Regions from separate parts of the Homo sapiens genome. Here all the other regions are linked to region 3. The links come from fine-mapping of genetic effects on gene expression. A gene starts in region 3. Each other region holds a variant in brackets. All regions are shown on one strand. Distances are between the middles of the regions.

Region 1 (8,000 bases), 93 kb after region 3:
ACAACTTGAATACACATGGCTTGTTTCAGTGTAGCTGAGGCTGGTGAGCCGCTGGGCCCAGGAAAGTCATGGTTTGTAAATGCTATGATATGAAACCTTACCCATGGCTCCTGTCAAACATTTTAGGCAAAGAGACTCTATGATATGATTTTTAAATACATACATGTATTTGTAGAAACACATACATGTATTTGTAGAAACACACACATGTATTTGTAGAAACACATACATGTATTTGTAGAAACACATACATGTACATATATAATTATAATAATTTTTTCACATATGAGGAGATTAAGGCAGAGAGAGATTAATTCCTGTAGCTAAATCTCCATAGCCAGATAGCAGCAGAAATAATTCCCACCCTATCCTTTGGACATTGCTGTAAAAATATGTTAACAAAGCATCATATTTATTTGATAATTTTGATTATTGAAATTTGATAAGTTGTCAATTAAGTGGTATGCTGTTGCATTCATTCTTGGAATTTAAAGAAAATAGAGTTTTAAAAGTGGTTTGAAGCTTAAAAAGAGAAGGAGAGATGTATACATTATGTTGTATAACAAATACTAAAAATTTTTTTTGATTTTTTTTTTTTTGGCTGATAACAGAGGTGAGGAAGTTGAAGAGACAGTGTTGAGTAAATTTCTTGACTCCCCTACTGCCTGCCCATGCATTGTGACAGGGCACACAGAGAATGTCTGCTAACTTGTCCTCAGCACTCAACACCGTGATAGCAACAACAAAACATATTTACTGAAGACAACCAGTTGATTAAATGTCTTGACCCCCTCCTGTGTATGCACAGGCATTGTCACAGGGCATACAAAGAGGAAATGATCAGCTTCTGCATTGAGACTCAGTGCTATTTAGATGAAGAAAGAAGACTGTACTGGAACAGCAGGCTGTTACAAGGATGATGATGACAAAGTCGGAAGGGAATGTGAACACAATGTGTCAGAGGTGTGGGAAGGGGAGGATGAGGGAGGGCGGGGAGGAGTCCAACTGGAAAGACTAGAAAGAAACCATTGGAACAGTTGTGTCCTTCACACCAAATGCATTTTGTGGTCTTACTGTTTGCTTTTGCTGGACCGTATGTCTTTTCACCCCGCTCTGTTGTACCTTATGATGAGGGGCAAATAACCACAAAGCAGGAAACCTTGTCAAGGAAACAAGTTCTAGACTCTGTCTTGTGGTCATTGCCCACTAAATTCCTTCTTTCATCACTATAGCCATAGCCCCATGATTATCATTTATAGAGAAGGGCCAGAGTCGTTAGGAAAAGGTTATACTTACTGTCAAGAAGGTAGGGATGTAGGTAATGCAGCTCAGAAAATTTTACATTAAACAGAATTGAGAATGTAGAAGTTTGGGGAAAACTCCAGTTTCTAGAGGATTTATATATCGGGAAGGGGTGATTCTTCTTTCTTCCCAACTTTGTCCCAGAGAGCCCAGTGTACCAGGTATTACGGTGCATTTTCTCTGTCTTATCTTTCCTGGTTTAGGCTTGCACGTGTACAATGTTCCATTTTCCTGTTTAAATAAATTTCTTCACTTTTACTTGAAATAGGACCCAGTAGGATATTATGTGGTACTTTACATGTAAGTTTCATTGGTCCTACTTTAAAAACAAAAACCTTTGTCTACTGTTCTTTAATCTCATCAACTGTTATTAAGGAAGCTTCATCTAAGATTTAATTATGGTCTGTTTTGCATATTTATCAATTGTTGCCTTTGACCAACAGTGAATTAATTTGGGTAATACTTTCACATGATATGAAATTATCCTGTATTAGTAGAAAATATTAAATGTTACTACTGAAAATGAATATTTACAGAGTTTTATTTCTTGAGCATTTAGTCTAAAACAACTTTTAATTTTTTTTGTTTTACACAGTTTTATTAGCAATGTCCCCACACCTTTGGGGCCCCATGCACTTCACCTGCTCCCCTTCAGCACCTCATTCACACAGCAAATGCGACCAGAAAGAAGGCTCAGTCCTCCCATTCCTCTTGACGTAGGCATTGGCTTAGGATAAAAACAGTTTTGTGGATGTTCATAAACACTTGCGACTTTTCATCTTGTCTGGGACATCATGCCCTTCGACATCCTTCATTACTCTTTATGAGAAACAAGCAAATAACCACAAAGCAGAGAATTTTAAGAAGCCATGAGGGATTGGGGCTGAATTTAGCACACTTTGATTATAGAGACAAAAATTGCCAAGTTTATGACTACGGGTGGTCAAAGCGCTCTCTCTGCATGGATAATTAGATGCTTAGTAAACGTTTTCTCACAGTAAAAATATGACTATTGCTCTGTGTAAGAAGAGTATAAGTTATATTATTTTGAAATCATTGTTTTATTTCTATCTTATACACTTATATTTTCATCTCATAGTCTTTCTAGCTTTGTCTCATTAGAACTTGAGGATTGGAGGGTTTAAATGTTTTAAAAGGATTTCTTTTTTAATGTTACTGCTGGGGGCTAACAGAGAGAAAAACGGTTAAGTCTGCCTTACAGTTACTGACAGGAGTGTTGACAATGTACACCCATGAAATCCTACCAACACTTTATTGGGATAATTGAGTAATGTGTAACTGGTGGCATTAAGAATCACATAGAAAGAATAAATTCTGACCTTCTACTTTTTTCTTTTTGTAATTTTTAGATTTGTAGCCAAACCGTGCGCCATAGCCCTCAACATTCAGGCCAATGGACCACAAATTGCTCCGCCCAATGCCATTCTGGAAAAGGTCTTCACTGCAATTACAAAGGTATGATTGTCCTTTCCTGGGGTATAGATTGTCCCCGGTCACCATTCTCAGCCTGCTGTCATTCAATTTGTCCCCTTCTGGGTTTGGAGAATCAACTTTTGCCTAGCCTTATGCTGGAGAACGTGTTGTCAGAAGGAATGCAAGCGTAGTAGAAGCGGAATGAAGATGGGCTTGTCTTAGACTTGGTAGTTTACGCTCAAGTTGATTTTTAGTAGCTCACCTGAGAATAGTCTTGACTAAATAATGATTAGTCTAATTCTGTGCCTCTTTTAATCACATGTGAAGCAAGATGTGACTAGAAGCAAGATGAGGGCTGGGAGGGACTTTGTGGAGGTGACTGGGTGGAGCTGAAGAATGTGATTTATGTGTGTGCGAAAAAAGGGACCTCTTGGCTTGTAGCATTGTCCATAGATTCTAGGAGCTGTGATAAGTAGACAAATGTAAACAAAAACAACAAGAAGGCATAACTGCAGGATAAAAGATTGTACCATGAAGTTATGAAGAAGGAGGGTCAGGAGAGTCTTAAGTGAAGAGATAGGTTCACTGTGGAGAATAAAAGGGAGGAGATACTCAATCTGGTGGGAGCTGAAGCCCAAACTAGGAGTGGGAGGAAGGGAGTGGGAGAGAAGTGGGTAGAAGAGACCACGTCTCCTGCCTCTGCCCCCATCCCAAGTTCAGATCTCCTTCAGAACAAAGAGGGAGGAGAAAGCTGGAAGTCAGAAACCCTCAGTTGAAGGCCATAGGAAAATAGAGCAAATTACCGAGTTTTTATATATCTTACCTTATTCTTGTTTGGACAAGAAAGAAGAAAAGATCAGGAGAAATACAACATTCTATGAGAAGTATTGTGTGTTCATATATTAAATGGCTCATTTTCTCCCTTTCATTTTTCTGGGAGAATTACCCAGGCTTCCAAGATGTGATTTGACAGAATTAAGCAAATTCTATTTCTTTTCTTGGTATTTGTGTTTCTAGCCATTTGTACTAGCTATCTCGTCTTACAACTATTAATTCAGATATCCAAACACTTTTATCTATTTTATGGTCTTCATTTCTTCCAAAATTCTCTAGAGTTTTTCCCTCTGTCCTTTTAAAAATGTTTTTCCCTCAAAAAATTAAGAAAGTACCAGGTGTTTTTCATATCTCTGCTAGGAAGAAGAGAAGAATGAATGGAATTTTAGGAAAAGCTCTTTTGATGGTTTTTATGGGGTAATTTCAGATTGCCAGGTTCCTGTCTGAAGGGACACATATCTTACAGTATTTAAAAGAAAAAAATGTAAAGAAAAAGCTTGCATTTTCATTTAGTGTATCAAATTACTTAAGTGAAACAACTTTTTCCCTCTTAAAAAAGCAGGTGTGTAGGGACTTCTCAGGTTCATTTGTAAGTGTGATTATAACATATTTGGAGTCTCTTTGTGAACTACTCTAAGTACATTAAACATACAGTATTCTAAATGAATAATAAAATGAGGTGTTTTTTTTTTAATTTTGTTTTTTGTTTTCTCCACATTTGATGCCTCTCCTTAAAAATCCTGCAGTGGATGTTTCACTTCCCTTGCCTTATGTTTTTTACAGTTACTGGAGAAATTTCCTCCATAAAGGTAATAAAAAGATTTTGCAGCCAGGTTGACTTTTCTAAAGAATACTTGCTTTGGCTGGGCGTGGTGGCTCACGCCTGTAATGCCAGCACTTTGGGAGGCTGAGGCGGGCAGATCATGAGGTCAAGAGATCGAGACCACCTTGGCCAACATGGTGAGACCCCATCTCTACTAAAAATACAAAAATTAGCCAGGCGTGGTGGCGGGTGCCTGTAGTCCCAGCTACTCGGGAGGCTGAGGCAGGAGAATGGCTTGAACCCAGGAGGCGGAGGTTGCAGTGAGCAGAGATCACGCCACTGCACTCCAGCCTGGCAATGGAGCAAGACTCTGTCTCAAAACAAACAAACAAACAAAAACAA[A/G]TACTTGCTTCTAGCTAATTTGAATGATCATATTCTTTTAGTTTCCAAGGTGATTCCTTTGGAGGTTTTTACATGATTAAAACAGAAGCGTCATGTAAAATATAAATGCAGCAAAAGTTGGAACTGTTTTCCCTTGTATTCTTTGTAGTTCTCCGGTCTTAATTGTGATATGAAATGTAACCAATCAGTTGACTGGAATAGGAGGGGCAGGACTTGGGAGAGCTTGAACAAAGTGTGCGTTTGTGTGTGTGTGTGAATGATCATCCAGTATCCTGGCCTTACCACGGTTTGAGCTGCCTTTTTGTAGAAGGGCATGATTATAATCCTTCAAGTGTGAGAGAGGTACCCTTAAAATCTCTGTATATGACTGGCTACATAGTTTGTGGGGCCCAGTACAGAATGAAAATGTGGGACCCCTTGTTCAAAAAGCACAAAAAAAGTGCCATTAAGCATACAAAAACATAAAGCTTTTTCCTTCCTCCCTCAGTCTCTCTCTACTTGTCAAGGTGTTTTTTTGTTTGTTGTTTTTGGTTTTGAGACAAGGTCTCACTCTGTTGCCAAGGCTGGAGTCTAGTGGCATAACTGTAGCACACTGCAGCCTCAAACTCCTGGGCTCAAATGATCCTCTTGCTTCAGCCTCTCAAGTAGCTGGAACTACAGGTGTGGGCCACCACACCTGGCTAATGTAAAAAATTTTTTTGGAGAGATAGGGCCTCACTATGTTGCCCAGGCTGGTCTTGAACTCCGGGCTTCAAGCAATCCTCCTGCCTCAGCCTCCCAAAGTGTTGGGATTATAGCTGTGAGCCACCATGCCTGGTCAAGGTGTTTTTTATTTGTCGTGTAATGTCATGTTCCCTAATGGCATGGGGAGACTCTTGGAGAAAGTGCAGACCCTCACAGGTAGCTGGGGGCCCCACCCTGTGACTTAGTGTGCACATGACCCACCAGCTGCCAGGTTTCCCTTTTCTCCAGCCACTGGCTGACACACTGTACCTTGGTCAGGGGAGCAGAGAAATACAGTCAGGCCTCTCTCCAGGCCCACTGCCCCAACCCATGGGTGATGAAGGACCTTCAAGTGCATTGCAACCTCTATGCCCAGATTCAGGGCTACACAAAAGGCTCAGCCCTACCGAGTCGCCCACCACATGCACTGGGGTAGCTGCCTCCATCCTCTCTGAAACTCGATCCCCCACTCTCTGTGTTTGCACTCGGCCCTCCACTGGGGGCTGAAGGCAGCAGCAGTCACTAGGAAGTGGGGAGACAGGGAGGCTGGTGAGTGCTACAAGCCAGGGGATGAGGAACTGGGCAACCACACACACATTTGGCGGAAGTGGTGGGACTGTGTATGAGCCAAGAATCCAAGCTCCTGGCACATGCTCCTTTGCCCCATTGGACTTCATTATAATAAGCACAAATTCCATGATAAAACTGTTAAGAATTTCAAGATGGTGACTGCAGGGTTTCCAACCCCAAATGTGGACCCTTCTGAATGGGGGTCCCTGTGTGACAGCACAGGTCACATGCCCTATCTGGTTCTCCTTTGTGAAATTATTAATAGCTGAAAAATTTGAACCCTTATATATTCTGTAGCAGTCTTTCCTTTTGAAGTAACACCTGTCTTCCTGTTGCCTGTCTCTCTCTCCTCCCCCATCCCCTGTCTAAAATTTTATAAACACTTTATAGAAACTACTCCTATTGTAAATGTCAATTAGAAGTCTTGGTGTTTGAGCCAGTTACACCTGGATATTTGTGTTGGAACCTCAGCTCTGCTGCGTCCCGTCATTGTGGCCTTGGGTGAGTTTCTTAACGTCCCTAGGCTGCAGATAGCTCATATGTAAAAATCTTTGAATAACCGTCTCACAGGCGTTCATGAGGGTTAAATAATCATGAAGCTCATTTGTAAAAATCTTTGAATAACCATCTCACAGGCGTTCATGAGGGTTAAATAATCATGTAAATCATTCAGTAAATGATATAGCATCTTTTGTCTCATTGGTTCCCATATTTTGATTTGCATTTAAGATTACCTGAGAGTTAAAATGTAGAGTGTTACGTCATGTTTCTATAGATTCTCCTCAACTGTATTGGAATGGGACCAAAAATTCTACAATTACGGATTGTCAGACCCATTCAAATGAACAGAATGATTATTTCTCTTTAGTGAATATTTTTGAGCTCGTGTTTCTTAACTGGTTATGTTGTTTCTTAACTGGTTATATTCAGAATTATCTGGGTAAATATGCTTTTAACTTTTGGGGATTCTCCTACCATATTATTTGTACATACCTATGATACTAACTACCTCACTTTTCTAATCAAATCAGTGCTTAAGCCATGGGGGTGAGAATATATGTCAGGTATAAAGCCAGGTTTTATGATCCAGGGAAATAATAAAATTAACTTTTGGTATGTTAGAGTAAATTTTAAAGTGATAGGCAGATTTCCTACAATTTGTTTTTCCTAATTCTCCTCAATAATCTATTTCCTTTCATTTTTATTTTATACTTTCCTTCTTTGCCTCCCAGTACTGGTTAAGATTAATGTTATTAATATTAACCTAGGTGTTTGTAATATATAAATGTTTATGTGAGTCTCCATTATTCATTTCTTTGCCTGGAAATCTTTCAAAAAAACTTACGGAGAATAATAAGGAAAGAACAATAAGAAACCCCCACCCTACATACAGAGTATACACACACACACACACACACACACACACACACACACACACACTACACACACAAACACAGAGAAAGAAAAAATGAAAGAAAATCTCACAAATGTCTTATTTGGCAAATTAGGAGATGCATATCTCTAGATTTCAAAACATATAAAGGCTACCTAGATTGGGCAGAAACCAAGTATGAGGAAGTGAAAAGCATGAAGTGTGTCTGGAGGGCCGTGTGGGGGTGGGTGTCAGGAAAGCCAGCACAAAAGCACTTCTCAAGAGTTGAGGAGACAAAAGAACCACCCACTGTTTGCAACAATAGGTGCAGGAACAGGTGAGCCAGGCTGGCAAGAGTGGAGGAGGGACACATAAAGCCACGTGGAGGGTATGTTTTCAGGAGTCCATCTCCCTTCATGGCAGCCAGACTGGAAGAGCATCCTTCCTGCTCCCCACACTGGAAGTAGCAGGTCAAGAAAATTCAACTAATTCAAAGATGATTAATAAAGAAGCAACTCACACAATATCAAAGACAATAAAAAGAAAGTATAGCAACTCCTGTTAACAAAATTTTCACTAGAATAATGAGGCTAAAGAGGC
Region 2 (8,144 bases), 38 kb before region 3:
AAACTGGCCAAAACAAAGGGGCCACAGGTCCCATGCGAGTCCAAAACCCAATAGGGCAGTCATTAAACCTTAAAGTTCCAAAATGATCTCACCTCCTTTGACTCCATGTCTCACATCCAGGTCACACTGATGCAAGAGGTGAGCTCCAGTGGCCTTGGGCATCTCTGCCCCTGTGGCTTTGCCACAGACCCCTTCCCAGCTGCTTTCAGGGGCTGGTGTTGAGTGTATGCAGCTTTTCCAGGCATATGGTGCAAGCTGTTTGTGGATCTACCATTTTGGGGTCTGGAGGATGGTGGCTGTCTTCTCACAGCTCCACTAGGCAGTGCTCCAGTGGGGACTCTGTGTGGGGGCTCTGACTCTACATTTCCCTTCCACACTGCCCTAGCAGAGGTTCTCCATGAGAGCTCCACTCCTGCAGCACACCTCTGCCTGGACATGCAGGCATTTCCATACATTTTTCTGAAATCAAGGCAGAGATTCCCAAACCTCAATTCTTGAATTCTGTATACTTGCAGGCTCAACACCATGTGGAAGCTACCAAGACCTGGGGCTTACATCCTCTGAACCCATGGCATGAGCTGTACCTTGGACCTTTTTAGCCAGAGCTGGAGTGGCTGGGATTCAGGGCACCAAGTCCCAAGGCTGCACACAGCAGGGGGACTGTGGACCTGGCCCAAGGAACCATTTTTCCCTCCTAAACCTCTGGGCCTGTGATGAGAGGGGCTGCCACAAAGATCTTTGACATGTGCTGGAGATGTTTTCCCCATTGTCTTGGCGATTAGCATTTGGCTCCTCACTACTCATGCAAATTTCTGCCACAGGCTTGAATTTCTCCTCAGAAAATAGGTTTTTCTTTTCTACTGCATCATCAGCCTGCAAATTTTTCAAACTTTTATGCTCTGCTTCCTCTTGAATGCTTTGCTGCTTAGAAATTTCTTCTGCCAGATACCCTAAATCATCTCTCTCAAGTTCAAAGTTTCACAGATCTCTAGGGCAGGGGCAAAATGCCGCCAGTCTCTTTCTATAGCAAGAGAGACCTTTATTCCAATTCCCAACAAGTTCCTTATCTCCAACTGAGACCACCTTAGCCTGGACTTTATTGTTTGTATCACTATCAGTACTTTGGTCAAAGCCATTCAACAAGCTTCTAGGAAGTTCCAAGCTTTTCCACATCTTCCTGTCTTCTGAGTCCTCCAAGTACCTAAGAAGTTATAAACTTTCCCACATTTTCGTATCTTCTTCTGAGCCCTCCAAATTGTTCCAACCTCTGCCTGTAACCCAGTTCCAAAGTCACTTCCACATTTTCAGTTATCTTTACACCAGTACCCAACTGTACTGGTACCAATTTACCGTATTAGTCTATTCTCACACTGCTAATAAATACATACCAGAGTCTAGGTAATTTATAAAGGAAACAGGTTTAACGGACTCACCGTTTCATGTGGCTGGGGAGGCCTCATAATCGTGGCAGAAGGTAAAGATGGAGCAAAGGTATGTCTTATGTGGCTGCAGGCAAAAGAGCATGTTCCCTGTATAAAACCATCAGATCTTGTGAGACTTATTCACTATCACAAGAACAGCTGGGGAAAAACCTGTCCCCATGATTTAATTACCTCCCAGCAGGACCCCCCCATGACATGTGGGGATTATGGGAGCTGCAATTTAAGATAGGATTTGGGTGGACATAGCCAAACCATATCACACACTTACTCATGAAAAGAATTTTTTTTAGCAGATTAGGAAAATAAGAAAATCCCTTAACCTAATAAGAGAAGAATATTTTTTAAAAATCCTTCAGCAAATAGATTTAATGATAAAACTTTTAAAGTATTTCCATTAGAGTGAGGAGACCATAACTTTTCAATACTGTCCTAGGAGTCCTAGTCAATGTAGAAAATAAGCAGTAAAAATATTAGAGAATGTATCAGTTAGACTAAGCATTATTCAATTTATTGTGGTTTGGAAATTTAAAAGTTAACCACATTGTTCATTTCTGAAAGAGACAAAGTTGTCATTATGTGCAAATGATATGATAATCTTATCAAGAGTCAGGACAAGAAGTGGAAAAACTATTTTAATGAATAAGATAACTCAGCAAAATTTTCTCAGTGAGGCCAGATGTGGTGACTCATGCCTATAATCCTAGCACTTTGGGAAGCCAAAGTGGGAGAATCACTTGAGCCCAGGACTTCAAGACCAACCTGGGCAACACAGTAAGACCCCATCTCTAAAAAACAAAAACAAACCAAAAAAAAGTTTTTAATTAGCCAGTCATGTTGGTGAGTACCGGAGGTCCCAGCTACTTGGGAGGCTGAAGTGAGAGGATCCTTTAAGCCCAGGAGGTTGAGGCTGCTGTGAGCCATAATTTTGCCACTGTACTCCAGCCTGGGTGAGAGAGCGAGACCCTGTCTCAAAACTTAAAACATAAAAAATAAATTAAAAAAAAATCGATAGTATTTTTATACCAATTTCTTTACACCAAATCATTCCAAAGAGCAGCACAAAGTATAAAATGCCAAGAAATTAATTTTTCAAAAGTTGGATTTTTATAGGAAAATTATAAACTTTTTTAGAGGACATATTAAGACAACTTGAATAAATAAAACTGAAAGGACATATTATTATTTAAAATATCTTCTCAATTTAATCAATAAATTCAATATACTCCAATAAAAATTACAAAATAATTTTTCAGAAATTTTGACAAGCTAATTCCAGAATTCATAAAGAAGAGTCAAAGTACATGAATAGTCAAGGCAATTTTTGAATAAGAAATGTAACAGTTACGTATTTCTTAAATAAAACAAAAACCATCAATTAAAAGGAAAAATATATGATAAGTTGGACTATGCTAAAATTAAAATGTCCACATAGTTAAATACACTATGAAAAAAGTTGAAAGAAAAGCAAACGACTGGGAAAAGTATTTTTAGCACAATAATTAGCAAAGGATTAATATTCACGTCATGTATATAGAAGTCCTACAGATTAATTTTAAAAGGACAATAGAAACTGGAGCAGAAACTGGTATGACGCTTTGGAATATGACATGGTAGCATCTAGTAAACGTAAAAATATACATATCCTGTAATCCATTAATTCTATGTCTCAGTACACTCTCTAGAAAAACACAGATATTACAAAAAGGAGAAACATCAAGGATATTCATGGAAGCACTGTTAACAGTAAATAAGTGGAAAAACCTTAATGACCATCAATGAGGGAATGAAGGGATGAAATGTATTATATCCATGCAATTTAATATTCAGTGGTAGTTTAAAAGGTCTTTAACTTTATAAATATTAATATGAATAGACACCAAAAGCAATGCTGAAAAAGAAAGGCAAGATAGAGATTGATACATTCAAGATGATGCTGTTTATGTATATTAACCATATATAAAAGAAAATATGACCGGGCGCGGTGGCTCACGCCTGTAATCCCAGCACTTTGAGGCCGAGGCAGTTGGATCACTTGAGGTCAGGAGTTTGAGACCAGCCTGGCCAACATGGCAAAACCCTGTCTCTACTAAAAATACAAAAATTAGCCAGGCATGGTGGCAGGCACCTGTAATCCCAGCTACTTGAGGGGCTGAAGCAGGAGAATTGCCTGAACCTGGGAGGCAGATGTTGCAGTGAGCGGAGATCGTGCCACTGCACTCCAGCCTGGCTACAGAGCAAGAATCCATCT[C/CA]AAAAAAAAAAGAAAAGAAAAGAAAAAAAGAAAGAAAAAAAAAGAAAATATTACATGTATTTTTATCTTATGCATAGCATTAAAATGCAGACATAGTATATATGTGTACATAAGTATCGGTACACATATCTATATTTAGATATATGTAAAACTACATGGAGATTAATGTAATTCTCTTGCAGAATAGACTGGAAGAAAACAGACAACACTTCAAACACACAAGTAGAGAAGGGTGTGGAAAGTGGGGAGGGAATAATCCTGGAGATAGGGTTTAAAGAACACTGATCTATATATGTAGTGTGTTATTTCTTAAATAAATAAAAGATTAAGAGCCAATGAGACAACATATTTATTGATTGATTGATTGATTTATAGAGACAGGGTCTCGCTTTATTACCCAGGCTGGAGTACAGTGGTGCAGTCATAGCTCACTGCAGTCTTACACTCCTGCATTCAAGCAATCCTCCCAACTCAGCCTCCCAAAGTGCTGGGATTATAGGCGTGAGGTACCATGCCAGGTCCCAGGACAAAATATTTAAAATGTGTAATTCAAAATAGCCAAATAAGACATCTGCTTTATTACTCTTTGTAACTTTTTCCCTTTGAATCTCTCACAGGTAAGCAAAGTTTTAAAAAGGTACTTATAAATTGCTTTCATACAATGTACATATGCAGATCAAATGCCCAAAGTGTCTTTAGAATTTTCTTTTCTAAAAGGTCTCTGATTAGAATAATCAGATCACTTTTCTGAACAGGACTGGTTAGGTATGGAAAGAAAAACAGAAGAGAGGGTCTGAAAGCCAAGTTCATTGTGGGGAATTCTTTGAGTTCTTTTAGAAAGACTTGATTCTGGTTGTGGTGGGGGTGGAAGGGTGGGTAGGAGAGAGGATAGAGAAAAATTACCCCGAGAGACTCCTTCCTGCAACTCCTCAGACTCTTCCAGCTAACAGAGCATGGGCATGATGCATTAGTGAGCTGAGAGTAAATAGCAAATGAAGCAGAGGTGCCAGTTCCCTTGAGGCTTAGGTAAGACGTCAGTGGTAAGAAAATACTACATTCTTTTTGTGTAAGAGGCCAAAAAGGTGAAAATCTCTGGTAAGGCATAATAACAGTAGAAGAGGGAAAGACTAAAGTTCATCTCTCCTGAAATTTATCTTCTGTTATGCCAGTCCATGCTAACTTCAAATTCTGAGTAGCAATAGTGCTCATCATATATTGTCATATTATTATAGAGCCACTCAGAAAACAAGAGAAATTTGGGCCGCCTCTTTTTTTTTTTTCCTGAGGCTCTAGCATATTAAAAATGATGAAATAGCAAAATAGACCTACAATGATTATATATTGTTTACAATTAACAGTAGGCTTTTGATACAAATTATAATAAAGTAAGTATGCTAGTCATCAGCTACAAATCATGAAAGATATGAAATCATAGTAGACATATGAAAGACAAAAATGTAAATTTCTATGATGAATATGTTTGTCTTTTAATCCTGTCATTATCTTTGTGGTTGTATGTAATGCCGCAATAAAAGATCAGGCTAAAAATCTATGAGTTCTTTGTGAATAAGAAGTCAGGGCCAAACAGTCTTCCTTTGCCATCTCTCCTGCCCTCCTTGTTTTAAGTTCTGCTCATGGGGGTTTCCAACCAGACTATAGCCCAGTTTAAAGGAATGACTGTGTCTTATGAGTTGTGGGGCAAGAGGTTGAGGGGAACAAGAGTGTGACTTTGGTTGGATTTGTAGTGGAATGGCACATACCACAAGTCAACAGGATGGAAGAGGCAAGTTCAGAGAGGATGACGTAAAGCAGGGAAGGGTAGGAAGATGCCATGAGTTCGGGCAGGTGAGATGCTCAGAGCAGACCCTTGTCCCTGGTCTATCCACCCTGGACTGAGCCTGGCAGCCCACAGAACTGAGATAGGAATTGGCAGTCGTAGTCTCCAAGACAACAGGCCACATGACCCCACTGATAAGACAGGAGACAGTAAACAACAGGTCACAAGCCCCTGCTGCTAAGAGGATAACAATAAAGAAACCAGGCCGGGGGCAGTGGCTCATACCTGTAATCCCAGCACTTAGGGAGGCTGAGGCAGGCAGATCACGAGGTCAGGAGTTCAAGACCAGCCTGACCAACATGGTGAAACCTCATCTCTATTAAAAATACAAAAATTAGCTGGGCATGGTGGTGCACACCTGTAGTCCCAGCTATTTGGGAGGTTGAGGCGGAAGAATCGCTTGAACCTGGGAGGTAGAGGTTGCAGTGAGTCAAGATCTCACCACTGCACTCTAGCCTGGGCAACAGAGCAAGACTCTGTCTCAACAATAAATAAATAAATAAATAAATAAATAAATAAATAAATAAACCATCTAGAACCAAGGTGGAGTGAAAGTGACCTTCACTATTCATTATCCATGAATTATAATTCACTAGCATGCTAAAAAACGCTCCCATCAGTGCCATGACAGTGTACAGTTGCCATGGCAACACTCAGAAGTTACCCTGAATGGTCTAAACTGGGGAGAAAACCCCAGTTCTGGGAGTTCCCTGCCCCTTTTACAAAAAACTCATGCATAATCAATCCCTTATTCAGCATATAATCAAGAAATAATCACAAATATAACAAGTGAGCAGCCCACAATGCTATTCTGCCTATGGGGTAACCCTACTTTGCTTATGGAGCAGTCTTCCCTTTGTTCCTTTATTTCATTCAACTTCCTCTTGCTTTTTTTCTGTCAGATCGCTTTTGACTTCTTTCTTGTGTGAAGCCAAGCACACAAAGTCCCCCAGACTGAACCCTACTTTTGGATGTGCAGAAGGGATGGGTTGGCTGAACTTTTCAACTCCCTTCTCTATTCAATTCATGATCTCATCGCCATGTTTCATTCTCATATTTCACTTCTTTAAGGGCTTTTCTACTAAGTCTTAAAAATCATTATGTTAACATATACTTTGAGAAATTGTTGGAATAATCGCCATTTGGTGGGAATATGTTCAGAGAGAGTGGTGGCTTCCCCCATGACCCTTCCATACCTGGAAACACACACCCTGCCATCAAACTGAGCTTCTGACTTAATGTCTGGGGAAGGCAGCTGACAGGGATCTGGTACTTAAATTGATAGAGGAGGACCTAGAATGTGGAAGAGTGAAGGAATTAGGAGTTCTGGACAAGTAGAGACAAAATCCCAAGGCATAGAATTCTGTGAACAATGGAATGAGGGTCTAGGCATGGGCACCAGCAGGACAGGGTGCAGCTTGACACTTAGCAGGGTTTCCCTGCATCCCTACAGCTCAGTCCAGAGGTGGTCCAGATGTGATGCAGGTGGAGCAATCATATAATTCCCATAATGTACATGTCTTATGAACTCATCCAAATCAGAAAATACTCTGCCTGCCTGACTGTAGTTCTCTATAAATGAAAAAAAGTGTTATTAAAAGGATTATAAAACTCTAAAAAGTCAGAGCCTACAGTCTCTGTGCATAAGTAAAACCATTAGATAATCTGGGTGAGAGATCTTTATGGCCATTTGTCATTTGATGATATTTTCTTCACCTGTAAACCCACAACGATACACTGTTACTAAGAGAGGATGAAACAGAAAGGCCTGGAACATTCCATTCCCAAGAGATAATTTATCTAAGTTTTAACAAAGAGAAAGAAAATCAAAGCATAAAATGTTCTCCAGTTTTGGTCTTTTGCACAGTCAAGAGAGGCATTACATACTTACTACTTTGTTATTAAAAATAGAGACTACTCTCCTCCCAATGTCCCAAATGAGAAGAGGAAAGTTGGAACTGGATGCCATCAATAGGTTGAGAGACCAGTCACATCAAGGAAGAGAAGAGGGACCAATTTATGTTGGCAACATTTAACTTTGATGAGCCTCTTTTTGTCAGCCTCTTCTAACTTGGGGAGGCGGGAGAGGGGAGGAAAATGGCAGAGAGAGAAGCGAAGTGGGGGAAGGCCGTCTAGAAATCTAGAAGAGAAAAAGTTTACCTGTAAAAAGAAAGCCAATGTGGATTATAATTTAACATAATCTTAAAAAGAAAATAAAGAGACTTCAACAAAAGTCAAAGCAAACCATTTTAATCAATTTGAACCCCAGTAGGAAGAGGGTAGTTTCCCTTGGCCTTTGGCTAAAAAGTCTACTTAAAAAGCTGGTAGTCCATGGGCGCCTGTAATCCCAGCTACTCAGGAGGCTGAGGCAGGAGAATCATTTGAGCCTGGGAGACAGAGGTTGCAGTGAGCTGAGATTATGCCATTGCACTCCAGCCTGGGTGACAAGGTGAGATTCTGTTTCAAAAAAAAAAAAAAAAAAAAAAGCTGGTAGTCCAAAAGGAAGGCTATGTTAGCAGGGAACATTGCTGCACAATCAGAGGAGTTAGTTTTTAGTCAGAGTTTACCAGAAAATCCCCAGGAAGTCTGAAGTTTCTTCCTCTGTGTCATTTTGAGT
Region 3 (8,122 bases):
TAGAGAAGAATAGTTTACAAGCCCTTTCTCATATGTTATCTTATGTGAGCCTCATGACAGTCAGTGACAGAGGCAAGACAGGTACTGTTGATGCACAAATCACACAGGAGGGTATTAACACGCTCTTAGAAACAAAGGAACTTATGGAAGATTCATAGAAAGTACTAAATCCTCCTTTTACTGTCCAACAAAACTCACCCTTCAAAATGTTCCTGAAATCCCACCACCTTCTCAAAGTTGATGAATGGGAGAGCCACATTATCTTAGTTTAGCTCCTATTAGTTTAGCTTCTAAGTTCCAGGGAAGTGTAGTTTCAGGGAAGCAGGAATGAGAGAAAAGGAGAGTGAGATGAGAAAGAGGAGAGGAAATATAAGGGGGTGAATTACTGAGTGGGTCACAATCTTGAAATAAAATGATGAGTTTATATCAGGGGGTGAGTTACTGAGTGGGTCACAATCTTGAAATAAAATGATGGGTTTGTAGCAGGGGGTATTTTCAGAGAGGCTGTTTGAAGCCATTGTGTGTGTCCGAGGGGTGGGGAGGAAAGGAATAAAAATGTACTTACTGTCTTCATTGCCCATGATCAAAGTCAGATCCCAGGGCATTAACTCACCAACAGTATTATACATGCTTGGGGACATAGAAGGAGCTGCTGGAGAGCACAGAAGCCATGGAGTAGGAAGCAAGGTACTATCAGGTCATACAGGAAGGAGTGACATGAGAAACCAGGGGTAGTCACAGAAGAAGTCTGGCTGGCCCAGAAGGCCAGGCTCTGACATGTCATGACATGTCATGACATGACTTTCGGACACAAAGTTGGTGAGAGGTCTTAACAAACCTCTGTCTATGGCCTACGAGAATGCAGCTGGTGCCAAGGCATGTTCCAGTGTTACTGAGAAGCTCACCACATGGTCTAGAGTGGTGATGGCGACTTCTACTCCCAAATGAAGACTCACTTCAATGACACCTCACCTCCCTCACCCCAGAATTGACCAATTCCTTCTTTATGCCCACACTATTCTACACACGAGTCTAACATGGATATATAAATATTTAACACAATTATTCAGATTTTTTTTCTTCTCCTTGAGAAGACTTTTTGGGGTTGGAGTAATGTTGATTCATTTATTCAGTAGTTTATTGAGTATCTACAATGTGCCGGGCAGTTTTTTTTTTTAAGTGCTAGGAATAGAACAGTTGATAAAATAAATACAAATCTTTTAACTTTCTGAAGCTTACATTTTAGTGCATGTCTGTGTGGATGATTGATGAAGATATAGGTACAATATATCTTGTGTTGACGGTGGTAAGTGTCTTGGAGAAAAACAAAGCAAGATAGGAAGAGTGGTGGTGGGGATTGAGGGATGTAGATTAACTAGGGTGGCCAGGGAAGGCTTCAGGGAGAAAATGACATCAGTACAGAGCAAACATGGATGTTCGTGTAAAAAGAGTTCCAGGGACAGAGAAGAGCAAGCACAAAGGCTCTAAGACATAGCTGGTGTGTCCCAGTAAGGGCAGGGTGGCCAGTGTGGACTCAGGCAGAGTGAAGGAGAGAGAAGAGTAAATAAGTCAGAGTTAATACGGAACCAAATATCACAGGTCATTGGAATAATTTGGCTTTCACTTGGGAGGGATGAGGAAGAAGCAGGGTTTTCACCCCAGGGGTGATCTGACAAATTTGCATAGGATCACACTGGCTGAGAATAGACTGTAGAGGGGCAAAGGGTGAAACTGGGAGTTGGGAGGTTACTGGAGTAATGTGAATTAGAAGTATTGGTTGTTTGGACCAAGATGGTAGCAGGGGAGGTGGTGAGAGATGGTGAGATTATGGTTTTAAAATGGTGCTGATGGGATTTGGGATGGATTGGAAAGGAGGTATGAGAGAAAGAGAGAAGGGGAAAAAATGACTCCACATTTTTGGCTTGAGCCAAGACTACAGGAGGAAGAGATTTCAAGGGGAAGATTAATAGTTTGGTCATGAGATAGCTTTTAGACATCTGAGTGGTGGTGTTAAATTGCCAGTGGATTTAAGAGTCAGAAGGTCAGGAAAAAGTTCATGGCTAGAGATATAAATATGGGAGCTATTAGCATGACATTGGAGGGCATACAGATGTCATTAAAAGCCACGAGACTGGATAAAATCACCAAATGAATACATTCAGATAGAAAAGTGAAGAGGAAAAAAGACTGACTCCTAGGCCACTATAACTTCTAGGGGTTAGAAAAGTGAGGAGTAACCAGGAAGGAGACTGAGAAGAAATGGCCATGAAGGAGGAAGAAACCCAGAAGAGTGAGGTTTCTGGAAGCCAAGTCAAGAATGTTTTAAGACACACGACCTGACAACTGGGCCAAATGCTACTGACAGAGGTGTTGTGAACTGCTATGAACTGAATGTGTGTGTCCCCCAAAATTCATATGCTGAAATCCTAGTTCCCAATGTGATAGTATTCAGAGACAGAGTCTTTGGGAGGTAATTAGCTAATGAGGGTAGAACCTTCATGAATGGGATTAGTGCCCTTATAAGAAGATAGGGCACTAATCTGTGTTTCCTCTTTCTGTGCTCTCTGCCATGTGAGGATACACAAGAAAACAGCTGTTTTCAAACCAGGAAGAGGATCCTTGCCAGACACTGGATCTGCCTGCATGTTGATCTTGGACTTCCCTGCCTCCAGAACCGTGAGGAATAAATTCTGCTGTTTAAGCCACCTAGTCTAAGCAGCCTGGACTAAGATAAGAACTGACCTTTGTGTTTAGCAGCATGAAGATCACAGGTGACCTTGGGCAGTTTCAATGCAGCAGAGGAGACAAATGTCCAAATGGAAGTTCAAAAGAAAATGAGGGGAGAGAAATTGGAAGCACCAGTATAGGCCATTCTTCAGTTTCACTTTCAAGAGATAGAGTGGAAAGAGGGGAGGGAAGAGTAAAAGAAACTCCCTCTCTCTGTGTGTGTGTGTGTGTGTGTGTGTGCGGTTATATGCCCACTGGAAAGGTTTAGTATAGCCTACTGGCAGCACCAGGCAGAAAATGAATGTGAGAAAAATGAACAAAAATGCCCCAGAACCATGTATACATGGGCCATGGAATGAATTCACACATGGCTCCTGTATCAATGGGGAAATGCATTGCGGGAGGGAAGGTGCCTGGGTTAGGCCTCACAGGCCTAATGCCTTAAAGGTTTTAGATTCAAAAGGCAGAAATAATGAGCCTGCCGAGTAGCACAGTGGAGGTTCTCATGATGTGCCAGGTCAAAATGTGGTCTAGCAGCCTTTTCAGAGAGGTTAGTTGAGAGGGGTGGTTTTACAGAACGCTGCAGTTGCTATCATCATCATCATCATCATCATCATCGTCATCAAGTAGCAATTAATAATCAAATAGCAATTAAGTGCCTAATTTTTTGTACCACCTCATAAATCAATATAGGGGGGCTTGTTCCCTGGGGGAGCTACTTTGATGAGAAGCAGCAGTATAAAAGACCGGAAAGTCAAAGATTGGGGAAAGGCAGGCGTGGGGCAGAGGCAGAAGGCTCTTGCCAAACCATCCTGCCTCAGTTCCTGATTTTTCACCCTGCCTCTCCAAGCGCGGGAGTGGAGGATCCTTTCCCTCCCACTTCCTCCTTTGCTCTTTACCCCTCCCCCTCCCCCCCCCTTTTTTTTTTTTTGCTGTCCTCCTGGAGCAGGGCTGGTTCTGAAGCTTGGCGGCAGCCCCTACCTGCTGACCCACCGCCTCCGGGCGCACGGGAAGAGGACTGAGAGCCCTGAAACCCCAGCGGGGCAGGAGCCAGCATTCTGAGCATGTGCGAGCCAGCCAGGGGGCTAGGGCGGATTTGGGGGGTCGACTTTAGGTCGTCGCCCTAAGCGCAAAGCGAAAGAGCGGTGAGAGCAGGGGCGGGCGACACTCCCCGGAGCGGTGCCCCTGCGCCCAGGGCGCAGCGACTGCGCCCTGCCCTGCGGGTGTGGGCGAGTTGGCCGCGTGTGTGCCTCGCTGTTTGACGCGAAGACGAGCCAATCAGGGCGGGCGGCCCGAGCTGCCATGTGACGGGCAAGGCGGCCCCTTTCCCCAGCGCGGCCAGAGGGAGGAGAGAACCGGGGCTCGCCGCGAGCCTTCGAGAGCAGCGGCCGCGGAGGAGGCGGCGGCGGCGGGCGGGAGCAGCGGCGGCGGCGGCACAGGCTCGGGGCCAGCCGGGCGCGCATCCCCGGGCGCCCTGCGCGGTGGAGAGCTTGGCGGGCTGCGGGTGCCGCAGGACAGGAGTGGACAAAGCAAGATGGCAGGGATCTTAGCCTGGTTCTGGAACGAGAGGTTTTGGCTCCCGCACAATGTCACCTGGGCGGACCTGAAGAACACGGAGGAGGCCACCTTCCCGCAGGCTGAGGACCTCTATCTCGCTTTTCCCCTGGCCTTCTGTATCTTCATGGTGCGGCTCATCTTCGAGAGGTAAGAAGGGCTGAAGCCCCTCCTCCCCTCCCCCTGCGCACACACACGCGCGCACACACTCGCGCGCTCTCTGGCGCACGCCCCCGCGCCCCCAACGCTCGCGTTCACGCCTCCCAACCTTTGTGTTCGGGGAGGGGTTGCTGACCCCCCTGCCCCGCTGGCTTTCTGGGAGCCAGAAAGGGTCTGGCTTGCCACGGATTTCCTCCCGGGCGCCGGGGAGGAGCCGCGGAGCGTTAGGGTCGCCCCCTGCCCTCCTCCTGGGCCCTGCTCTCCTCCCGGCAAGGGCAGGCGAACAAAGGTGAGCGGTGGTCGGGCTCAGGACCCGCCGCATTCCGCGGGGCTCGCCCCTCTCCGCCGGCGCGCCACGCAAGGCTGCCAGGCAGGGCTTCCCGCCGGGGCCCGCGCCACCCACCTGACAGCCAGGAACGTTCCGGACGCGCGGCCCGGAGGGAGGAGGAACCGCGCACACTTCAATCTTTATGCTCCGGCACACGGATTGTAGGGGTTGTGCTTCAAAAGAATTCGCCAGGGACTTCCTGGCTTCTGGTCGCTGTTTGGTTTTTATCCGTGAAACTATCAGGCCCACAGTCCTGGCAAATAGGGGATAATAGCATTTCAGGTTATTAGCGGTTTCTTTAAAAGAGGATGTGACAGGACGGGTCCACATCCTGCAAAATGGTGATATTAAACTGATAACCCTGTCCTGTGAATAATCATAAACTTCTTTTTTGGTACTCGAAGGCACTTAAAATTTTGAGGAATTGTCATGCAATTGTATAGTTCCTCGGTTTGGTTGGATATCTCCATTGTGTCACATACAAACTTGTGTTATTCTCATGGAATTCGTTTTCGTCGCGAAACTAGATTGTGCCTGCCATGCATTCTCTGGGTGCTACTGAAAGAAAACCAGGACAGCAGCACACTTTTTTTTTCGTAACAGAAAATATTATCTTCCCCTTTCTTGTACCCTCCCCTTCCTCTGCCCAATTCATCAGTAAAGGCTGAATTTCTTAGATCACAAAGTAGAGTTTAGATTGCATTTCTCGCTTCCACTCCGCCTTTCTTCCCCGCCTTCAACTCACCTTGGTTTTGTTTCTTAAGCTTTTGCTGGTACCTCATTTGCTGTTCCTCTTTGCCTGAAAACGACTGTTGAGGGTGGCAGAACGCGTCTTTTGAGTCATTTGCTGCTGGACGAGGCAACAAAGCTTCATGGGGACAAAAAGTATCTTTTGTCTCAGGAAGGTATATTTTTCACCGGACAGTATTGTTGCTTGAAAACGAAGTCAGCTGTTCGCCTGCAGAAATTGACATGCACAAAGCAACAGACTTTAAGACCTATGTTTAAATTATTGGAATCTAATACAGATGTGTCATTGATCCTATACAAAAAAGGATCAAAAAAGTCACAGCAGTGCTGTGAAAAAATGGGTGTGTTTGCAGGTGTAGAGTTACCTCTAGAGCAAATGTTTGGTTACAGAAAATATGAACTCTATACAGTTTTGCAGGCTCTCCAAAAACAAGCAGACTCAGGGATAGCAGGTTTGCTCTATGTTGGCACATAGTAGGGGATCTACACACAATTGCTGAATTATGATAAATTGTGTCTGATAAATTCTGGCTGGGCTCACTTTTAGATAGATAATGCATTTGAAAGAGATGTGCAGTCTTATGTGTTGGAGAACAAAAGCATGATCTGTGCACAAACAGCCGAATTTTCCTGACATCCTCCTTCTCTATGCTGATTCCAGGCTGTTCACTGTGTTTAAAAAAATTAAGTTGTTAGAATGGAGATGGCTTTGTACTTAGATTGTCTCTGCCTCTAAAAAGATAAACACTAATGTGATAGTTGAAAACTGGAAGTTCATTTTTCCTCTTTCTAAACATTTTTTATTTTCTTTCTTTTTTTCCATAATCCCATGACTCGACTTAGAGTTTACATAGAGGGGTGAGCTGCTTTCAATTGTCAGTCACAGCAAATGTCCTCATATTGATATAAAGTGAGTTGGTCAGTTTCCTTCAGGCCATTGATCTAAGTAGAAGAGATTTAATGGCCTGTATGGAAAGTGAAAGTTTATGGTTAATGTTCAGAATAATAATCCAATATGGCACATATGTCACAGAATGCTACTGACTTTTGGAAGACTATCTACTTTGTTTCTTCCTATGATAGCTCTGTCTTTAACCATTCAGACCTTCTCAATTCTCTGAAAATCCACAATTTAGTTGTATCTAGAGTTAGAAGTTCTGCATGTTTCTCCTCTTCTCAAACCTAAATGACATATTCTGGGATCCAACCTGTGACCTTCATCTCAGTAGCATCCATCAAGGGCCTGAATCAATAAAACAGAACCATTCAGTATTATCACTGCTACAACTCACATTCAATGGCCTTCTAGCATTTTGTATATACATCCTTTTCTTTTGCAGTATTCTATAATGTATACGATGATTTTAAAAGCCTGTTGTGAATCCCTTTGTAGAATGAAATGCTTTTGTAATAGGAATAATTCTCTCAAGATTCTTCTCTTTGTATGCTTTGTCATTTATTTCAAAGCTGAGACCATACCTAAGAAATACCCGATTATCCAAGTCTTTATTTTACATTAAGTGAAGTCAGTAATGTCCTTGTTGAGGCTAAAATCGTGAATTTGAATGCCTTCTTCTCAGTCTTAGGTATTTCTCTCTACTAAGAGAAACATCAAAGAATTGACTGAAATGGGCTTTGCCCAGTTAAACAGTCCTTTCTTTTTATTTTCATCCCGGCTGTTGTGGTGTGGATAGTGGAGGCATTGGTAGCCAGAACATGTCACTTTATGACAGCATATGGACAGCAATATGGAAGCCCAGCATGGTTGGTAAAAAATGGGGCAGCCTAAGGTCAATGACTTTTGGCTGAGTCTGTGAAGATCTCAAAGCTTGGTGGTTTTTAGCATAGCCTTTATACCATACTTAACTCCGGGTAAGGACCAGGACCACTGTAGCGACCAATTGATTGACAGAGTAAAGTATGTGGGTTTTTTTTTTTCCCCCAACTGGGCTGATTCTCTTAGAATAAAAATTGTATACCATTATATTATGTTAACTTGATCACAAAGAACAAAATGTTATTTATTAATAATATAGCATTGTCATCTGTTTGATGAATTTTCTTGATTTAATGCTTGTTTAGATTCAGTAAGCCATTCTCAGGAACTATAATAAATGCTTCTTCCAACTTCACTTTTTCAAAAATGTGTTTTGCTGTGGTATTTATAAATGTGGAAATTGTGCTGAATCTCTTTAGAAATAAAAATTCTTTGAGTTATTGTTACAAATGTTAACTTTAATGCTGTGGATTTAGGAGAGATGCAGGAAGTATAGATCGGGAATCAGAACACTCAAATTCTAGTCAAAACTTACACTGGGGCAGCCTCCTAATTTATCTCTGTTTATTTTCTCATTTATGTGTTGAGGCAAATGGCCTTTGTAACTTATTGTTTTCACCCTCCTGATTCTTTGATTCCTGTGGATCATCTGTGCTTGAAAATTACTAATTATTATCTGATGAAACTTTGAAGCGGCTGAATGTCTTTTTTTTTTCTTTTCTTTTTTTTTGAGACATGTTCTCCCTCCATCACCCATGCTGGAGTGCAGTGGCATGATCATGGCTCACTGCAACCTCCACCTCCTGGGCTCAAGCAGTCCTCTCACC
Region 4 (8,144 bases), 320 kb after region 3:
TCCAGATGACTTTCCTGTTACTAAACACTGAGCAGCATTACACTACAATGCTTCTTTGGTTTCCAGGAATTTTTTTCAAATGGGGCTGTTTCTGGAAAAATGAAAAATTCTATTGGACAATGGCAATATCAACAATGAGGAAAATTACTGAAGAATAAGTTTCCATAAGTCTCCTACATAGCAGTGTTATTTATGTACAGATAAGAAAACCATATGTCAGCCAAAGATTTTATCTCTTCTTCTAACTTTTAGTAAGAGGAAAAAGGGATTATAAAACCCTTCATAAATCAAGAAGGCCATCACTTAGAACGAACCCCAAACAAAAATGCCATAATATAAATGTGTGAATCAGGGCTGTGAAGACAACAGCAGAAATGCTAACAAGCGTGCAGAAACACCAGAGAGTGCGTATCCTGCTCAGAACCATTCACATTTAATTCAATTCTTGGAAAAAATTAAAGCTTTTTGCCCACAATTTGCAATCTGTGGGTTAATAGTTAAAAGAATGTTCCCAACCAAAAAATTCTTACCGTAATATTATATCTTGCCCTACTTATTTACAAAATAATATGTTTCTGTTATGGTCCTTAGTAATAATTGAAGAGGCTTAGAAATACATCTGCTTGTTTATTGAGAAAACGATGCAAATAATTCTGCTTTTAGAGCCTTGTTATTTTATTTCACAAAACAGGCATATGTCTAGGAGTGTAATTTGTGGATGGTTGAGTTTGTAAGAACAATCATAAAAGGACTTGTTAGTCTCCAGAACATCTGCTAAAATGCAAGTATATGTATAAGGTAATAGCATATTACAGCTGAAAATTTTGAGAAGGTAAAAGTTTCTTAATTAAAATATGAACATATTTAGCTTGCTTTAGTGTCTGGGGCAAGTCCTCTCAATGGCTAAAATTAACTTTAGAGATCCATGTGTTCAGGTTTAGATCATATGACACTCGAGCACAGAAGAATAATTTCAAGGAGGTCATCTTGTAAATTAAAGGTTTAGAAGAATTGCATAAAACGTAGTAAATGGGGTCTGTCATTAGCAAAGGCAAATCTAAGCAATCATTTTTCCCCCCAGAAGTTACTTAGAAGGAGAACTGGGAACACTTGGGGTCTCTCTAACTGATGGCATTCACTTCACACAGTCGTCTATGTTATCCAGAGATTTTTATTTCATTTTACATTTTAGGGCACAGTTCTTTGGGGCTAATTAAAATGGGGTTTGCAGGCTTTTTATGGTGAAGAATAATATATCTCTGTCTATAGCTTTCCCATGGTAGCCTGATAAGGCTGAGAGAGAAAAATATGTGCAGTATCTCATCCTCCCCCTGTACCAGGCCATAGCTTTGAAGTGTATTTTGTAAATTCAACTATAGGTTAGTCAGAATGCTGTTTTTCGTTAATTAACTTAGCCTGTGTTGATATCTCCTCCTTCCTGGTCACATTCAAACCTTCCCAGAGTACAAAGGGGTATGTAGAAAGGATTCCAGAAGAAGTAATACTTTATTCTCTAATGTTAATAGCTTTTCTGGATCTCTTAGTAGGGGGAAAGTAGAAAATCGAGTAGAATTTGGCCTCAGGTCAATAAATGATATAAAAACATGTGTTCTATTTATGTATATATATGTATGTTTCTCCAAAAAGTGATAAAACCAAAATATCACTGACTCATCCCTACCCATATTCTTTTCATAAAACCCACTCACCAGGTACAATAGAAACTTCCCTCCTTGTTTGTCAGCCTCCTGTTCATGTTCCCCACACACCTGAAGGTGGTAGAATCTTTTCAGCCTCTTAGCCAGTGAGCTAAATATGGCTAAGCACAGGTCATAAGAGCACCTAAGGCCAGCATATAAGCCAACTACAGTTCACCTTTCCAAATTTGGTCCTATGGATGTTGAGCATAGGGAAGCAACTCTCAGTATTTTGGATTATTCAAGTGTATGTGGTAAAAATGCAGATGATTGCTGCTTTACCCCAGGGTTTATTAGCATCCTACTTCTGCTGGGCTGCATCATTATATAATGCCACAGGCATCTAGTCAAGGTAAAGAAGCCAGAAAGGTTAGGCAAGAAGTGAGATAAAATCAGATCACCTTTGATCAAAATGGTTGGTGAACCTCCACATGTCCAGTTCTGTTGCCAAACTTTCCATTCAGAGTATTTGGTGGAGTTTGAATTTGAGCAAACTAAATGCCTTCATCTTAGGTAGAAAGGGCCTGAATCTTCCATTTTATATTCAAACCTCATTGTTATTTGGCCTAAGTAAAAAGTCAGATTTCATTTCCATTTACCTGAGTTCGCTTTAAAGAGCTTTTCAAAGAGAGCTTTATAGACACCCACAATTGTCCCCAATCTCTTCATGATGTTGCATTAATAGTTGTTTTTGTCCCTTTCTTGGAAATGTTAATGCCAAAGTTGCCTGAACATTGGGCGGTTTTCTTAATTTGAAGTATAAAAATTATAAAGAGTAATTCCAAAGGTATTAAAAGATTGTTTAACAGTATGTGTGGTGATGTCATTATCTCCAGAGAGGCTTCAAGAAATCCTTTGGAAATAAAAAGTTAAATGTTTACATTTCATGTGGTATTTCAGGTCTTCAGGTTCTGATTAGCTTACTTTTTTCCTTTGTCTTTGGCTGATTTCTGCTTTGTAGATAAATAATAATAGCCCTGAGATGTTTCTAACATTTAAATAAGAAAAAAATCAAATCGAAGTCAGCCTGCTGGAAAAGTGATCACATGGCAGTTGCAGTAACTTGTATGGAAAGAGAAAATGCAATGAGCCCAGTTACTGCACTTGCCACTACCATGCTGTCCATGGAAGGAATAATCAGCAGTTCAGTTGTCACAAGCCGCCCTTGAAGAAAACGCAGCAAAATATTTTAAAATGAAGATATTGCAGTCCCCAGAGCCAGTGAAGGTTTCTTTTGGTAAAATGAAATTGTGCCATTGTCAAAGTACCCCGTAGTGATGAGCACTGACTGGTTCACTGGCCACATTTTAGTTCTTCATAATAATAGGCCACAAAAGGGCTCTGTGGTTTGCCTCCATGTGCACTGGCCCCTCCCCACCCCTAGGGGGCACTCAGTAGCTGCTGAGAAGGCCTGTCCACGAGGCTGTTGGAACCCCTCCAATAAATACTTAGAGGTAGTGTATCTGATGCTTGTTTTCGTGGAGAAAATTGTATTGGAGAACTTAAAACATCACGAATATTTTTAATAGGATCCGCAGACACCCAAAGGAGAAGCTTGGTCTTTTCCAGGTATTTCCAACTTGAGTTCAACCCAAAGCCTTTGAAAGGAATGCATTACCACATGACCACATGCTGAGACCCCATGGGGTCTAACACGGGACCTAAGAAAGTCTCTGCAGCCAGATAGTACATGGTGTCTCCACAAAACTAGGCATTCTGGAGATTGCCCAGAAAGGGATGTGAGGGGACCGTTAAGATCTGTCTTGCTTATCTCATGCACTCACATTCCTTCAGCCTCCTGGAGTTCCTGATAAAAGGAAGCCAGGGTGTGGACATTTTTTAGCTATTGATTTCCCAATAGCTTGTGGATCAGTTGTACACCCACACTTCCTTCTCTGCCTAATTCCGTTTTTCTGGAAAAAGTAGTATGCCCATGTATGTGTGTTTTTCTTAACACAGGTCCATGAAAGTTTGGCTTCCTGGTTTGATGTCTGTTGCGTGGCCTGGAAACCAGGGAGCAGCAACTATTGAGATGGTTTCTGTGTTCAGTGAAAAATTCTATTTCATTGAGACAATTTTTTCTTTATCCACAGTAATTTTTTGACACTGTCATCATGAAACTACCCTTAGGAAAATAAGATTACCTGCAAAAAAAAAAAAGAAATGAGTTATGGAATAGGAACAGTTATGTGATGATTCTGAAACTTTAACTTAGAGCTTCATTACTTTAAGAATGGAAAACAACCTCTGAGTTTGATTTCCCAAAGTTTCATAAAGCCCCTAAGCTCATGATTTTCATCAACTCTTTGCCCACATAGTCATTTACCTCCACAGCCGTTTGTTGTCATAGAAGGGGTGGTGGTGTTTGGATTTGATTTTTTTCAACTTGCAGTGAGAAATAGGATAGGTGACAAAACCTTACTTGTTTTCTTAAGACAATTCAGTGCTTGAGCATCTCTGTCAGAAATGGAATGAAATACTGTTAGCCAATTAGAATTATTTTATGTATTGTTATTGTGTTTTGCTGATTTTTATATGAAAATATAATTATTCATTCTTGATCTCTGGAAGCAATCATTATTATGAGGATCATTTTACTTTGGAAACACTTTCATA[A/G]TAAAGATAAGTATTAAGAGTGCAGTGTAAGTGCCCTTTACTGTAAATGCTAACCAGCTCGTGTGGGTAAAACATCACATCTCACCTGATGAGGTTAATAAAGGCTCACATCATCCCAGTAGATTGTTACAAGCCTCGTCAACTCCCAGTATCATTGTGATCATTGAGAAAGTAATGTTACGTTAACTTGGATAGACTGTAGTATCTCTTTGAAAATTAAGATTAAAACCTCAATGCTAAATTTTATGTAGCACTTTATTCTGGAAAACATGGTTTATAGAGATCATCTGAAATATATCAGGTTATGCTTATTTTTAAAAAAATTTTAAAAGAGGCACCTAGGATAAACACCCAAAGCACAACACAAAACTTCCCTTCTCTGTGTATGCACCCCTCATCGGAGTTTGGCCCACATCATCTTCTCTTGGTTTGTACCTCACTTTGCTAGAACTTCTCTCCATCTTTCTCTGTCTTTCCTGTGAAATACCTCTCTCAATCTGCTCTTCTGCTCTAAGCTTAGGTCTTCTAGTACTCAAAAGCCGTAAAAATAGCACTGAAATTCAACCAGACACCCCACCACTATCACAAGTATTATAAAAAATAAAGCAGATACCCTATTAAAATCTTATAAACATTATAACCACCCCCAACAATAGAATAACTCATGCTGATTTCAAGCATGAGTTATTCTAATAAGTTAAACCACCAACATTCCTCTGAGACACAAAAATACAGACTATGAAAAAATATACTTTTTTGGAATCCATGAATTCTTCAGTTCTACAAAACATAGCATAATCTAATGCTATAAGCATCTGTCTTAGTCTGCTTTCTGCTGCTGTAACAGAATACCACACACTGGGTAATTTATAAAGAATGGAAGTTTATTGGGCTCATGGTTCTGGAGGCTGGGAAGTCCAAGAGCATGGTGCTGGAAACTGGTGAAGGTCATCACATGGCAGAAGGTGCCACATGGGAGAGCAAGCATGCTAGACAGAGGAAACTGAGCCAAACTCATCCTTTCATCACTCCTGAAATAAAAGCATTAATTCATGCATAAGGACAAGGTCCTACCTTAAAACTTGAGTTTTGGAGAGGACATTCGAACTATAGCAGTATCTCTCCCAAGTAGCCAAAATGCAACTCCCTTTTCTCTAGGCCCCATTGCTTACTACTGGGGCTGCCATATCCAACCTAAGCATCTGTTATTCCTGCCTCCTAATTCTGTTTCCACCAGCCGTGCTCTTGCTTCAGTGGGAACAGTGGCAACAATGCTAACAACATTGAGAGATGATAGGACAACAAAGGGGGAGAGCTGTGTACCAAGAACTACTGGGATGCTGGGTGGTCCCTCAGAACCAATTAGCACAGTAACTGGATCCTGGGACCCACACCCTTAATTATTCTCAAAGTGCTGGAGCACAAAGAAACAAAAGTTATATTATTCCTAAACATTAAAATTTTAAATTTTTTAATTAAAAAAAAAATTAAGGACAGGGTTTCTCTCAGTTGCCCAGGCTGGAGTGCAGTGTTGCGATCATAGCTTGCTACAGCCACAAACTCCTGGGCGCAAGCAATCCCCCCAAGCTCAGCCTCCCAAGTCGCTGGGACTAGAGGCACACACCACCAAACCCAGTTAATTTTTTAAATTTTTCATAGTGGTGAAGTCTTGCTGTGTTGCCCAGGCTGATCTCAAACTCCTGACCTCAAGCAATCCTCTCACCTTGGCCTTGATGTGCTGGGATTACAGGCATGAGCTACTGCACCCAGCCTGAAATTTAAAAATTATATAAAGTCTGCCTTAGCCAAGGTCCAGGTGGGAAACAGTCACTGTCAGATGGTTAAGTTGAAGAAACTTTAATAAAAGGATGACTTTACAGAGGCATGGGCTGGATTACATCAAACAAGGGAGAGTGAGGCACCCAGAGGCTAACAAGTATGGGAAGCCTTTACCACCCCTGGGTTGTAACCAGAGGCCAGTGAGAGGGGCTAGTATGGAAGAGAGGCCACTCTTTGGGGGCTACAAACCTGGATGGAAAGAAAATACCCCAATGTCTCTCTCTTCCTGCCTTGTTATACCACGCATTGGCTGGACTCAGCAGAAAGCTGACAGTGCGGAGCCTGGGGGACGTAGGCTACAGGGTTCAGCCTCCCATGGTGCACAGCAACAATAGATGCGGGAGAGCAAACCAAATAAGCAGCATAAAGCCAGTATTCCTAGAGCCTCCCATAGAGTCTGGCATGTAATAGGACACAAGAAATGTTTGTCGAAGAAACAAATGAACCCAGTTACGAGAGAACTAGTAAGATGGGAGCTGTTAGCAATTAACATTCCATCTATTAGGAAACAAGCAGGAGACAGTACTTTGTCTCCAACTCTTTCTGAACTCAGGATTTCCCTGTGTGGGTTCCGCTTCTCTCACTGGTGCCTCAGGCACAGAAGCTGAGGGGCTTTATGGCAGGCTTGGATAAGGGGATTTGACACCAGCATCCCAAGTCCAGGCATCACGGGAGGGAGATGCAGGACTGAGACTAGAGAAGTGGCTAGAAACAAGCTAAGAGGAACTGAAGAGAGAGGACATGAAGAACTAGAGAATGAATGAAACAGTTGTGAAACAAGGCAAGAAGGTCTATGCTCCAGCATTCATGACTAAGTTTTGAAGCACATCTTCAGGTAAGAAGTTTATTTTTTTTTAACTTACTGAATAATATAAAATATCTGCAGAGCCAAAAATAAACAGCAAAGGCTCAGTTCCCTGGCTGCGTAATTCAATCACTCAAAAATACTTATAGAGAGCCCACTAGGTGCCAGGAATTATTGTAGACACTAAGGACAGAATGATAAATAAGACAGATAAGTTCCTACTTCTATGGAACTTACAATAAAGGGAAGCAAAAAACAAATAAACAAGGAGCTGCACATCATATATCATCAGGGAAATGCAAATTAAAACATCAATGGGATACTACTACAAATGTCACAGAGTGGCCAAATTCCAGAACACTAACAACACCAAATGTTAACAAGCATGTAGGGGAACTCTGTTGATTGCTGGTGGAAATGCAAATGGTTCACACACTTTAGAAGACAGTTTGGCAGTTTCTTGTAAAATTAAACATACTCTTCCCGTATGATCCAGCAATCATACTCCTTGGAGTTTACCTGAAGGAGTTGAAAATTTATGTCTGCACAAAAACCCATACATGGATGAAATTTATACATACATAGCAGCTTTATTCATAGTTGCCAAAACGTGGAAGCAACCAAGTTGTCCTTCGGTAGGTGAATGGATAAGCAAACTGTGGTACATCCAGATAATGGGATATTATTCAGTACCAAAAAGAAATGAGCTATCAAGCCACAGAAAATATATGGGGAAACTTAAATACATGTTACCTAGTGAAACAGCCAATCTGAAAAGGTTATGTACTATATGATTCCAACTATATGACATTCTGGAAAAGACAAAACTGTGGAGACAGTGAAAAGATCAGTGGTGGCCAAGGGTTGCAGGCGAGAGAGGGATGAATAAACAGAATAGATTTTTAGGGCCAGGAAACTACTATATATGATACTTTAATAGTGGATACATGTCATTATACATTTGTCCAAACCCATAAAATGTACACCACCAAGAGTGAACCCTCATGTAAACTGTGGACTCTGGATGATAATTATGTGTCAATGGAGGATCATCAGTTATAACAAATGTACCGCTAGTGGGTGATGTTGATAATGGGGGAGGCTATGCAAGTGTGGGGGCACGAGGGTTATGGGAAATTTCTGTACCTTCCTCTCAATTTTGCAGTGAACCTAAAACTGCTCTAAAA

Which allele goes with the higher level. Alleles are on the strand shown, and positions count from the first base shown. SD is a standard deviation of normalised expression in the study named. Not every link is listed here.
As copies of A replace G in region 1, the expression in activated naive CD4 T cells of the gene that starts at base 4,085 in region 3 goes down (large effect, 0.78 SD a copy in Schmiedel 2018).

The links. PIP is the estimated chance that this variant, and not a neighbour inherited with it, causes the effect.
Region 1: its variant is fine-mapped to the expression of CERS6 in activated naive CD4 T cells (Schmiedel 2018, PIP 0.95).
Region 2: its variant is fine-mapped to the expression of CERS6 in whole blood (INTERVAL, PIP above 0.99).
Region 4: its variant is fine-mapped to the expression of CERS6 in lung (TOPMed, PIP above 0.99). The same link has a PIP of 0.9 or more in whole blood.

Annotation. Positions count from the first base shown.
Region 1 is chr2:168,544,924-168,552,923 of GRCh38, forward strand. It overlaps CERS6 (ceramide synthase 6), which reads left to right. Exons shown (of 10, transcript NM_203463.3): 2 at 2,673-2,778. Among named protein-coding and RNA genes, the nearest start is that of MIR4774, 34 kb to the right of the region's middle. RefSeq lists enhancers at 5,251-5,822, 5,823-6,393. The variant A/G (reference allele first, on the strand shown) is at 4,736.
Region 2 is chr2:168,414,670-168,422,813 of GRCh38, forward strand. LOC105373734 (a long non-coding RNA gene) reads right to left here and starts at 7,086. Exons shown (of 6, transcript XR_923559.3): 1 at 6,724-7,086; 2 at 1,434-1,529. It overlaps LOC102724081 (a long non-coding RNA gene), which reads right to left. Exons shown (of 4, transcript XR_002959433.2): 4 at 7,762-7,984. The variant C/CA (reference allele first, on the strand shown) is at 3,691.
Region 3 is chr2:168,452,188-168,460,309 of GRCh38, forward strand. It overlaps CERS6 (ceramide synthase 6), which reads left to right and starts at 4,085. Exons shown (of 10, transcript NM_203463.3): 1 at 4,085-4,431. The coding sequence starts at 4,262. It overlaps LOC102724081 (a long non-coding RNA gene), which reads right to left. Exons shown (of 4, transcript XR_002959433.2): 1 at 4,844-8,122. RefSeq lists silencers at 3,677-3,896, 3,927-4,016, 4,137-4,266, 4,717-4,776.
Region 4 is chr2:168,770,798-168,778,941 of GRCh38, forward strand. CERS6 (ceramide synthase 6) reads left to right here. Exons shown (of 10, transcript NM_203463.3): 10 at 1-4,337. CERS6-AS1 (CERS6 antisense RNA 1) reads right to left here. Exons shown (of 3, transcript NR_045787.1): 2 at 4,024-4,154; 3 at 1,154-3,841. Among named protein-coding and RNA genes, the nearest start is that of CERS6-AS1, 12 kb to the right of the region's middle. The variant A/G (reference allele first, on the strand shown) is at 4,314.